Linked DNA regions of Homo sapiens. The protein of the gene in region 2 interacts with the protein of the main gene of each other region in a pairwise test. Each region holds a gene or a part of one and is shown on either strand. Other genes may lie near its edges.

Evidence for each region. Proteins that work in one complex are often made in the same cells at the same time.
Region 1: the proteins of SLC18A3 (region 2) and PEDS1-UBE2V1 interact in a two-hybrid assay, tested with the Homo sapiens proteins (one large-scale study listed by BioGRID).
Region 3: the proteins of SLC18A3 (region 2) and SEC14L1 interact in a two-hybrid assay, tested with the Homo sapiens proteins (one study listed by BioGRID).

What each region holds. Positions count from the first base shown.
Region 1 is NC_000020.11:50,094,724-50,098,223, forward strand, and holds part of PEDS1-UBE2V1 (TMEM189-UBE2V1 fusion protein), read right to left. Parts: intron 2,098-3,500; coding exon 1,949-2,097; exon of another isoform or gene 1,763-1,948; coding exon of another isoform or gene 1,760-1,762; intron 1,548-1,759; coding exon of another isoform or gene 1,524-1,547; exon of another isoform or gene 692-1,523; intron 1-691. Other genes in the region: UBE2V1 (ubiquitin-conjugating enzyme E2 variant 1), read right to left, coding at 1,949-2,097.
Region 2 is NC_000010.11:49,608,924-49,613,109, reverse strand, and holds SLC18A3 (vesicular acetylcholine transporter), read right to left. Parts: upstream 2,801-4,186; 5' UTR 2,370-2,800; coding exon 771-2,369; 3' UTR 390-770; downstream 1-389. UniProt on the Homo sapiens protein: Electrogenic antiporter that exchanges one cholinergic neurotransmitter, acetylcholine or choline, with two intravesicular protons across the membrane of synaptic vesicles.
Region 3 is NC_000017.11:77,206,969-77,210,468, reverse strand, and holds part of SEC14L1 (SEC14-like protein 1), read right to left. Parts: intron 1,128-3,500; coding exon 993-1,127; intron 1-992.

The DNA of each region.
Region 1 (3,500 bases), on a different chromosome or scaffold from region 2:
TGGGGGATGTGGGAGGGAGAATGGGGGGTGCCTACCGATGGGTATGGGTTCCTTTTTGAGGTGATGAAAACGTTCTGAAATTAGTGACGGATGCACAACTCTGAATGTAAGACCACCGAACTGTATATTTAAAAGGGTGAATTCTATCCCAATAAAGCTGTTACCAAAAACAAATACATGGAGGACTCCTGGCATACCGTAGCTACGCATTACAACTTCCAAAGCCTCTTTTGGAAAGAGATAAACTGAAATTCAGGGTAGCCCAAGCTGTTTTAGGCAGACAGAATATTTTCAGCAGAATTTACTGATGCATTGTTTTGTGTGTTTTTTTGAAAGTGTACAATTCAGTGGTATTTAGTGTATCGCAATGTTGTACATTGGTTCAATTCTCAGTATTTTAGAACCTGTAAATCAGTAAGTTGATTAACAAATCTACTGAGTACCCCATTCTGAGTCATTTCTAGGTATTCTGGGAAGTAAGGAGGGAAGCACAGTTCTCATCCTCAAGAAACCGAAATCATTCTTAGGAAGAGAAGACATGCAGTGAAGAAGATGTCAGCATATGATGGACCTTCAGAGACAGCAAAGAAAATTATCTCCATGGAGAAACAGGATTTCTAGATTGGGTTTTCCCCGGTATTTAGCAGACGCAGAAAATTCTGGTTTTCACAGGAAAAAAAGGATAAAGAAATGAGTAAAAACAGATCAAATGTATATATTTTTAAAACTCCACAAAACTATAGGGTCACAAAATGACTTAAGAAGCAACATTAAATGGCAAAGCCAATCATTCACCATGAGTGTTGATGACCATCTGAAATGAGCATTAGTGTCCTAACACTTAACGAACATGTCACTTGTCCCTGTTCCAGCCCGGGCCACGCCCTACATGTCTTTCTGCTCTCACAGTGCTAGTGCAGAGTCCTGCACACAATCAAAAGAATGAATGTTGTCATCATCCTTAAACACAAGCAGACACAGGACAGGTCTTGCTACATTCAGGCAGAGGCCCTTACTGCTTGTCTGAAGTGTGTGTCACAGTATGGAAATCAATTTCTTGACTCCTACATCAAGTTACTACTTGATTAGTATCTTCTATAATGGTAACAGATGAAAACTCAAAATGTAAACAAAAGGGAGACACCACAGCACAGTGGTTAAGAGCACAGGCTCTGGAGTCAGATCTGGTTTGGGGGTTACCAGCTATGTGACTTTGGGCAAGAGATCTGACTCCTCTGAGTCTGTCTCCTCATCTGTGAAATGGAATGCAATTGCACCTAACAATGGGGTCTTGTGAGAGTTAAGAGACATTTCTTGAGGGTTTACTATGTGTCCTCAAAAAACGGTTGGCTGGCATTATGAAGACTGGGAACTCTCACAAATCAGGAAGGTCTGAAAGAGGCCACTTTTCCCCATCCTCATTGTCTTCGTCTTCTTTGCAAAGGCCTCTGGGTCTAGTAGTGCCTGGAATAGACCAGGAGCTGACAGGCTTGCCAGGGACCTTTGCTGAATGGCCCAAGGAACTAGGATACAGGTGCACGGCAGACCTGGGAGACAGTGAAGAAAAACCACAACTGGGAAGGCTTTCCAGAGTTAATTTGGAGACTGGCTTCAGGAATGCTGGCTATACCTAGGGCCTAGTTATTTGGTTAGCCCAGAGATTGTTCTGAACGACATCTGATGGTGCAATGACTTCACACCTCACTGTCTACATTGTCATATAAATTCACACTATGAGTCTAAACAGGTTTTTGCTTACCATTTAGAGGGGTTAAACAGCATCAGAGGAGGTTCAAATATATAAACTGAAACTGGTCAAAAAAGAATAGCCACATTTCAGAAAATATACCATTGGTGAGCTTTTTTTCCGTGATAAGGCTAATATTTTTTAAAAGGAGGCACAGTGAATTTAAGACATTGACATTTATAGCCGTAGCTCGACGCTTACTCTTGGAGGCCCAATTATCATCCCTGTCCATCTTGTAAGTGTCATGTCTTCGTCATCTTCTAGACCCCAGCTAACTGTGCCATCTCCTACTCCTTTCTGGCCTTCTTCGAGTTCTTCCAACAGTCGGAAATTGCGAGGGACTTTTACTCCTAAAATAAATGGAAAGAAATTCAAGATACCAGCAACTCCAGGGGAACTTGTAAGCCTAGAGCTAGCTGCTCATTATCTCTCCCTGGGAATCAAGATGCTAACATGCAAAAAAATCACGGAAAGTTATCACACCTCAAACTTGCTACTTATAAAGCTATCAGTATCAACCAGCACAACCAGAGGGAAGGGGCACATGGTTCTCTGACAGGTGAAGTGACTAGGGCTAGATAACCAAACTTAGAAAGATACCCCACCCCTACCCCTTGGACAAACCTCCTAAGGGGCTTACATGTCTAAATGTCTATGAATTGGGGTCAACTAGTATGAGATGAAAACCATCAATATCAGGTGCTAACAAAAGTACCTTGGAAGACAAGAGGCTAAGACTACGCTTATTTGTTGGCATGACTCTCAAACAACCTTTAGGAGGAATAGTCACCATGGATATGGGAAATAAAAATGGTATCCTCTTAATCAACTAAGAGTCAACTGAAGGCACCAAGGATAAAATATTCTATTGTTTTTCAATTATTTAAGTGATAGTTTCTCTTTTAACTTACAAAAAAGCTAAAAGGGAATAGCTGGTTCTCAATTGTTTTCCAAAAATCCCAAAGCCTGGCAAGTAGCTCTTGAAAGCAACGCATGAAAACACCTCACAGGTTCAAGCCACAGTACCGGGTTCAGGCTGAGGCTTGAGCCATTTCTAGGTGTCTTCCAGAACAGAACCTAGGTACTGGGGCCAGACAAGGGAGGGGGCTATGGGAGGAGAGAGAGATGGACTTTCCTTCTGTGCTTGGGGAACAAATCATCTCTCCTAGGGTTGCACTCCCAACCAATCCTGACTGTCTCTCCTTCCTCCATTTTCCCTGGCATATGCACTATTTTCTCTGGAAAAAACTCAGGATCCAGTCAAGTTTCAAGTTCTCTGCCTTGAATGCTGAGCTCTCAATTGGCCAGACTCTCAGAGACAAACAGGACTAACCATGTGACTGTGAAGAGAGGCTCACTGGAGGGACCCCAGATTGTGGGAGGTGTTGCCAGTATATGTATTTCCCAAAGTGTAGGACACACGCCATTAATTCAATTGGAATAAATATTTGAGTACTTAGTATACATCGGGGACTTTTCTAAGCACTGAAGAACAAGCAGTGAATAAAACAAAAATGCCTGCAGCTTACATTCTAGTAGAAGACATATAATGGACAAAAATGAATATGTAAATTATACAGTATGACAGATCCTGGTGTTCCGGAGGAGGGAGTAATACGGGAGGGGCTATACTTTTAAATGGAGGGATAAAGGAAAAGTGTTATTGCAATCAGGTGTCATAACTAAAGACCTAAAGAAGGTGAGAGGGCATGATTTATGGATAGCTGAGGAGAAAGTCTTTGAGACAGAGCAA
Region 2 (4,186 bases):
GGATTCTGGTCTGAAGGGAAGCTCAGCCCAGGCACCTCAGAGCTCTGAGGCTGGTGTGGGGCGTGTCCTCAAAGGGCGGGGCCTGGCGTGCCTAGCTGGAGCGGGTCCTCAGGCTCCCCCGGGCGGCATCCCCGGGCTCTGCGCTAGGCCTGGAAAAGAGGGTCTATCCTGGGCTGAGGGGAGCATGGTGCTCCTTGGTGACCGTGGGTGACAGCCTTTGTTGGGTTTGCTTCCTTCCTATCCCCTTTTCCAGGTAGAAAAACAGCTACAGGTGCCTACGTGTTAGTTTGGCTTAGGTCTGGATTGGGACTTGGAGACCCAGTTCACCCTCCCCTCTGCTCTGGCCCTGCGCGCCTCCACGCACCCCCCACCAGTAAAGAGACTCGGCCTCCTGGGACAGACACAGTTTATTGATTTGGGCGGAGGCGCCGCGGTGCAGCGGCCCAAGTTTGGCACTGGGAGCAATGGAAGGAAGGACAGACAGATGCAGGCTCTACACAGGGGAGCCGCAGGTGGGGACTCAGGGTCCTCTTCACCTCCGCAAGGAGCGCGATGGCTTCGCTGGCCTCGGTGCTCCAAGCCCCATTGGACAAGAGAGAAAGGGATATGGAACGGGTCACAGGGAGGGGATTTGGGCAGAAGTCAAGGTTGAGGAGTGGCTGGGGTACTCGCTGGAGGAGGTGGGCCCTGAGCCAGAGCTGGCCAGTGGGCTTGCAGAGCAGCCCCCTTGACCCAAGGCGGTTGGGTGGGCTGGAGGAGGAGTGGGGATGCTAGCTGCGGGTGTAGTAGTAGTTGTAGTCGTCCTCGCACGCATCAAAAGGGCCAGGCGGGCTGCGAGGCTCGCCGTCCTGGCCAGACACAGGACGCTCACGCAGGCGCACCGCATCGTACAGACCTTGCGGTGGCTCATCAAGCAGCACATCGCGCTCGGAACGGGAGCGCGTCAGGAGGCCCACGTTGCGGAGCAGCAGCAAGACGGGAGCATAGAGCAGGTTGGCCAGTCCCATGCCAAGGCTGAGCTGCTCAAAGCCCAGCGAGTGCACAATGTGGCCTGCCACTATGGGCCCGAGCGCGTAGGCCACCGAATAGGAGATGTCGGCGATGGCGTAGACGCTGCCATAGACTGAGACATGGCGCACGTCCACCAGGAAGGCGAGCGTGGGCAGCAGTGCTGTGTCGACTAGGGCTATGCCAAAACAGAGGCCGCATAGTGAGACCACTAGCGGCGCGAAGGAGCGGCAGGCGGGCACGATGCACGAGCTGGCGCCGATCACAGCCAGCCCAAGCGCGCCGTACAGCCACTGCAGGTGTGGGTAGCGCGCCGCCAGGCGCACGGTGAGGTAGACGCCCAGCACATGAGGCACGAAGGCCGGCAGCCAGGCCATGCCCATCTCCCACTCGGAAGCCGCCATCGTATGCTTCATCCACGTGGCAATGGTGGGTTCGAGGAAGGCGAGGGGAATGTTACAGGTGGTGAGCGCGCCGGCCACCACGGCAATGTAGGGGTCTAGCATGAGGCGGTGGATGGGAGTGCCCACTGGCAGGTTGGCCCGAGCCCGTGCAGCCGCCGAGAAGGGTTTGGCCACTGCCAGCAGCAACAGCGCGTCAAAGAGCGACACGGCAGCTAGCACCAAGAAGGGCACGCGCTTGCCGGCGAACTCATAGAGGATGCCCCCGAAGGGCGGGGCCACTAGGCTTCCGAAGCTAATGAAGGCCAGCGCCACGCCCAGTGCACGACTGCGCTCCGGCTCCTCCGGGTACTTATCGGCGATCATGGCTATGCCAGACGTGTCGGCGAAGGCTGAGCCCAGGCCCTGCAGGCTGCGCGCCGCGAACAGCGTGGCGTAGTCCTCGGCGAAGGCGAACAGGACTGTAGAGGCGAACATGACGCCCAGGCCGATCAGCAGCGGCACGTCGTAGCTCATGCGGTCGATGAAGGGCCCGCTCAAGGGGTTCACTAGCAGCTGCAGGATAGCCTTGGAAGCAAACAGCACCCCGATCTTCACGTCTTCGCTCTCCGTAGGGTAGCGGGGCCGAAGGGCTGAGCCCGCTGGCCACGCAGCTGTCGGGGACGCCGAGGTGTTGGCCGTGTAGGCGCTGGCATTGGCCGGAGTGGGCAGCGGCAGGGTGGGCTCCCACACCTCGGGAGTCCGGGTGGGGCCCTCGCCGCCCCCGCGCATGTGGGCGATGTAGTCGGGCACTATGGGCACGATGACCATGTACAGCATGTTGTCCAGTAACAGCGCCACGCACACGATAACAAGCACCAGGCGCCTCTGCCGCCGGGGCTCCTGCAGCGCCGCGCCCACAGCCTCCGACAGCTTGGTGGCCGCCGCCCGGGCCTGGCCCGCAGGTTCCGCGGATTCCATGCCCCCACCCCGATGCTCTTCCGAGGACGCCTCCGCCAGGGCCGAGCGCTGGCGTCCCGCAGTGCAGAGGCGAGGGCACGGGACTTCGGGGAGGCTGTCCTGGCCGAGCAGACTCCCCTGTGCCTCAGGTGGCCGCGGAGCTCATGGCCCAGCGTCCCGGGAAAGGAAAGGACTCCGTCCGGCGAGGCGTTGCAGCTACTCTTAGCCGATCCCGGGACCCGCGGCTGCTGGGCTCAGGGGCGGCCGGGAAGTCGGGCGCGCCGAGGGGCCGGGGCCGGAGACTGGGCGCACTTCGCCCGGGGCGCGCCCAGAGCAGCCCCCGCCGCGCTAAGAGGCCGCCCGCGCTGGCCGAGGGACATGCTGTTGCCGCCCGCCCGCTTGCCCGCCCGTTAGCCCCGCCGCTGCGCTCCCCTCCCCTCGCGTCGGCTCTTGCCTCCTCCGCCGCCTCCTCTTTTTTTTTCCCTTCCACTCGGGGCTGTGACGCGGCGAGTCCCAGCCCCCGAGTGGTGCCCGGGCCACTTACGTCGCTCATGCTAATGCGACGTCGGCGGGGCGGGGGCCGGGGGCGGGGCGTGGCCGGGCAGGGGTCCGCTCTCCAGATGCTCCAGGGCTGGAGGCCCAGGAAGGGCTCTCGGTGTGGAAGTCTTGAACCAGCCCCTGGGATGGGCGTTCCGCGCCGGTAGCTGGCCCTCTGCCCCCCGCCCCCTGCCTGCCCCCCGCCCGCGGTTCTAGGACTCGCGGGGTCAGCGCCCGCTCTTCTCCTCTTGGGGAAGGGGGCGCGGCAGCCGGTTCCTCGAGGCCCCTTGGGAGAGGCGGGAGCCAGAGGCTTGCGATCTCCGCTTCAGCCTGGACCTCGGCGCACAGCGAGCAGGAAGCCCCCGAGGTGAGCCGCCGCTGCGTCCATCTGTTCTCGCAGCTGGATTGTGGAGCCGCGTCCGGAGGAGCGCTGGACACGGACACCCCCAACCCTTTCTCCGACTCCGCCCCCTGGCCCCTTGCACACACACTCCCGCCAGGAGGGGAGGGGAAGGCTCAGCAACTGCCTGGCCTGGCTCTGACCCACCGGCCCCTCCGCAGAATTTCTCGGCCGCGAATCGCGGCCGGGAGCTTGTGGGGACTGAGGGCAGAAGTTGCCGCGCCCCAGTCGGGGTCGCGAATATTAGCCTGGCCGCTGCCGCCCTCCCGCACTGCCTGGCCACATTCCCCTTGCCTGGAATCCCCCTTTCTCCTTTAGCGGTCTGGTCCCCCAGCTCCGCCTCTTCTCTCCCCGCCGCCGCACCCCCTCCCCACTCTAACTCCTCCCAGGCACTCTTCGCACCCGACCAAGCCCTCCCTCGGCTCCTGCCAGCCTCCGCCCCCTGTTCTGCACACTCCCCCATCCCTCATTTTCCAGAGCCTCCTCCAAGCCCCGGGTGGGCTCTGGAGTGACTGTGGCTGGGGTCCTCTCTTGGAACTGTAAGAAACCCTTCTTGGGTGCCGCGCCCACTCCCCGGAGAGCGCCCAGCCGCTTCGCTGTCGTCAGGGGCTCCAGGGAGACTCACCTTCCTTCTGAGAGGGCCGCACCCCTTGAGGCGCCCGTGCTCAGCTGACAGGCTGAGCTGCCCAGGCTGTGCGCTGGGCCTGACGCGTCCCCAGAGCGGCGTTGACCCTGGATGGCACATGGAACCCGTGTTCCAGTGGGCGGACTGGCGGGAGAGAGGCTCCAGGGCGGCTGAGGTTGGAGGTGGGGATTGTGTTGTTGAGATTACGGTTTGCGTCTCTCTTCCAGAGTCAGAGGGGAGCCTTCCCATTTTTCTGGCCTCAAAAGTAAAGCAGCA
Region 3 (3,500 bases), on a different chromosome or scaffold from region 2:
ATTGCCCAAGCCAGCACCACATCCTCACTGACACCTGCTCTGCACAGAGTGCCACCATCCTCTCCAACAACTCTGGGCCACGAACCTTGTCCTAGCTGAGAAGGGAGATTCCGCTGCAGGCCCCTCCTGCTTCAGGTCACTCGTGATGCTACAGGACAGACATATGGCATGCACAGGAACACGGAACGCCCTTGCTTCTCTACCAAAAGTGACAGCAAAAAAGGAATACAGGAACACCCTCCTTGCTCCATTAGACTTACAGAAATCGGAAAATCCCCAAGATATCTATAAATAACCAAAACCCAGCCAAGAAAAAGTAGCAAACGGGCCAGGTACAGTGGCTCACACCTGTAATCCCAGCACTTTGGGAGGCCAAGGCAGGTGGATCACCTGAGGTCAGGTGTTCGAGACCAGCCTGGCCAACATGGTGAAACCCCACCTTTACTAAAAATACAAAAATTAGCCAGGCGTGGTGGCGGGTGCCTGTAATCCCAGCTACTTGGGAGGCTGAGGCAGGAGAATTGCTTGAACCCATAAGGCGGAGGTTGCAGTGAGTTGAGATCATGCCAGTGTACTCCAGCCTGGGCAACAGAGCAAAACTCTGTCTAGAAAAAAAAAAAGAAAAAGTAGCACATGAAACTTGTTCAATATAACCATGAAATAAACTAAATTCAGGAGTTAAGTGCTCCAACAAGGAAAGATTAGCTATTCCTATCTCTGTGTTTGGTGGCTTTAGTAAAATGGAGGTCAAGAGATCCAATTTCCTTTCCAGGCACTCTGATCAAGCACAGCTAGTTTCTATTCTGAGAGAGACCCATTCTTCGACGTTGACATTTACTGAAACTAAATATCGAGTGTCAACAAAAGCCTAAAGACAAAGAGCAGAAAAACGAGTGGACTGTTCTGAATGAAAGGCTGCCAGGAAGCCCTGCGAGGGCCAGGCCCTCTGCGGAGGAAGGGCCGGCCCAGGTGCAGGAAGGCGGAGGACGTACCTCATGTGGGGCTCCTTTGAAGACGCTTGCAGACTGGTAGATGGTCTCAGTCCAGAGCTTCAGGTCTTCGTTCTCCAGCTCCTCTGCAGTCCGGTACAGAGATTTGGGGACCAGTCCACCCTCTGGCACTTCGCACTGGAAGAAGAAACACAGCAGTGAAACCTGTGCAAACACAAACCAACCCCACGAAACCCAGACACACCGGCCAGCACTATCCCCCTGCACTCAACTTCTGGAGGTTGCTGAGAAAATGGAAAACACTGGCAGGGTCGTAAAACACTCTGCACTACTGAGCAATATGTTTTTAAAAACCACTTAAATACATGTGTTTTACTCTGCATAAACGGGAACAAGTTGAAGCTGATGTACCACAGAATTCCTACTAAAATGCGTGAGGCACTGCACCCAGTTACTAAAGCTGACTCATATAAGCATTAGGGGTATTTATATTGCCCTGTAAAGGAAAAGTATTACTTTAAGAAAAGAGTTTTGCTCTCAATAGCCACAGGCATTATTTTTATGATAGGGAATTATAGTGAAGATACAGAATCAATGAATAATGTTTTCTGTCTAAAGTCAAATGACTGGTCTATAACACCAGCCAAAAACTAATGAAGAACTTCTTTTGAATTTGCCTGAAACAAGTTGAATTAGAACTTGTACATAACATAAATCTCCTAATTGACCTTGACACAATGACTCCACACTAAAGTTCATAAAATCGAAGTCCTCGTTCTATTAGCCTTGGGAAGCAACTACATAGAAAATAAACATTTCAGTCTTCAGCCTGCAGTACAGCATAAGTGTCAAAGCAGTGATGTCGTGGTGGAAAAATACCAGACTGCCCGCTGGTTAGTAACCTCCGGCCACCAGAGAGCAGGAGGGAACAACCTCCTTTCAACAATCAGCCTCAACAGCAGCTCAGGAGAGAGGTGAAGAAGCCTTAGAAGGCCCAAGTTTTTGGACAGTTCAATTAACCACAAAGACGCTCAGCACCGCAAACACACTACGGAGGTCGGCATGTGACAAACAGGCACAACGCGGTGAGGCAGGTCTCCTTGGGCTCCAGCTCAATTCTTCGTGTCATAATTGGAAGCAGCAACAACACGGGATGGCTAGCTCATATCATGAAAGGAGTTCAGAGGTTTCTACGAACCTGAGCCTGCGGTTTAACCTCATAGGCGCTTGCTAAATTCTGGTCCTATAACCTTTACTGTAACTTACTTGCTCTTTGCATTGTACTGTGATGATGCCTGTAATTTCCTTAAAGTGGAACTGATGAAGTGAAAGCTAAATTCATTTGTTTTCTAAATTTCTCTAACCATTCAGAAAGTCCAAAGTCCCCTGAATGTCCAATTCATTAGCTAAATACCTGAGTCAAACCCAGTGGGTACACATTCCAAACGGGTAACTTTTCATATGAAGGATGACTAGAGAGCCCTTCTGAAAAGGAGCTTCACTCCCTGCTGAGTTCAGCCACCGCCGTGTGCCATGGAACAAGTCACTGGGACTTCTAGAGGCTCTGGCTTCCGTAATGCTCCCAAGACACAACTGTGCACCATGGGCTAGAAGCCTATAAGGACCCCAAGGTTCTGAGCTTCTCTGAGTACAGGATATAGAAGTGGAGGCCTCTGCTTCATTACCCAGCAACTCAGTATATTAAAAACCCCAAACGTATGTTGAGAACCACTTCCCTTCGTTTTTTTACTTTAAAAATGTTATCCAGGCCAGGCATGGTGGCTCATGCCTGTAATCCCGGCACTTTGGAAGGCCGAGGTGGGCGGATTACTTGAGGTCAGGAGTTTGAGACCAGCCTGGCTGACATGGTGAAACCCCATCTCTACTAAAAATAAAACAATTAGCTGTGGGTAGTGGCGCATGCCTGTAATCCCAGTTACTCCAGAGGCTGAGACTGAAGAATCGCTTGAATCTGGGAGGCGGAGGCTGCAGTGAGCTGAGATTGCACCACTGCACTCCAGCCTGTGCAACAGAGCAAGACTCCATCTCAAGAAGAAAAAAAAAAACCAAAAATGTCATCCAGTCTGGGGCAAAATAGTGAGACTCTGCCTCTACAAAAAATTCGCTGGGTATGGTGGTGCACGCCTACAGTCCCAGCTACTTGGGTGGCTGAGGTGGGAGGATCACCTGAGCCCACCAAGTCAGGCTGCTGAGCTGTGATCGCACCACTGCACTCCAGCCTGGGTGACAGAGCCGGACCCTGTCTCCATAAAAAAAAGGACGGGGAGGGGCGGGTGGGAAATTTTGAGAACTGATTCAATTTTTTAACAGTATTTTAGAAAATATGACAGCTCCTCTAAAATTGTTTAAAGATCTGATTCACACAAAGCCGTGTGAATCAAAGCAAGCTGCAATCGTATTTGATTCTACGAATTCTCATTCGTATTTAACAATGAAGAAATGTACAGTATCAACAATTACTTCAATGGTTCTCTTTAGCTTAACCCTGGATCAGAGAAATGGCGGCCAAAAGAAACAAAACAAAAACAA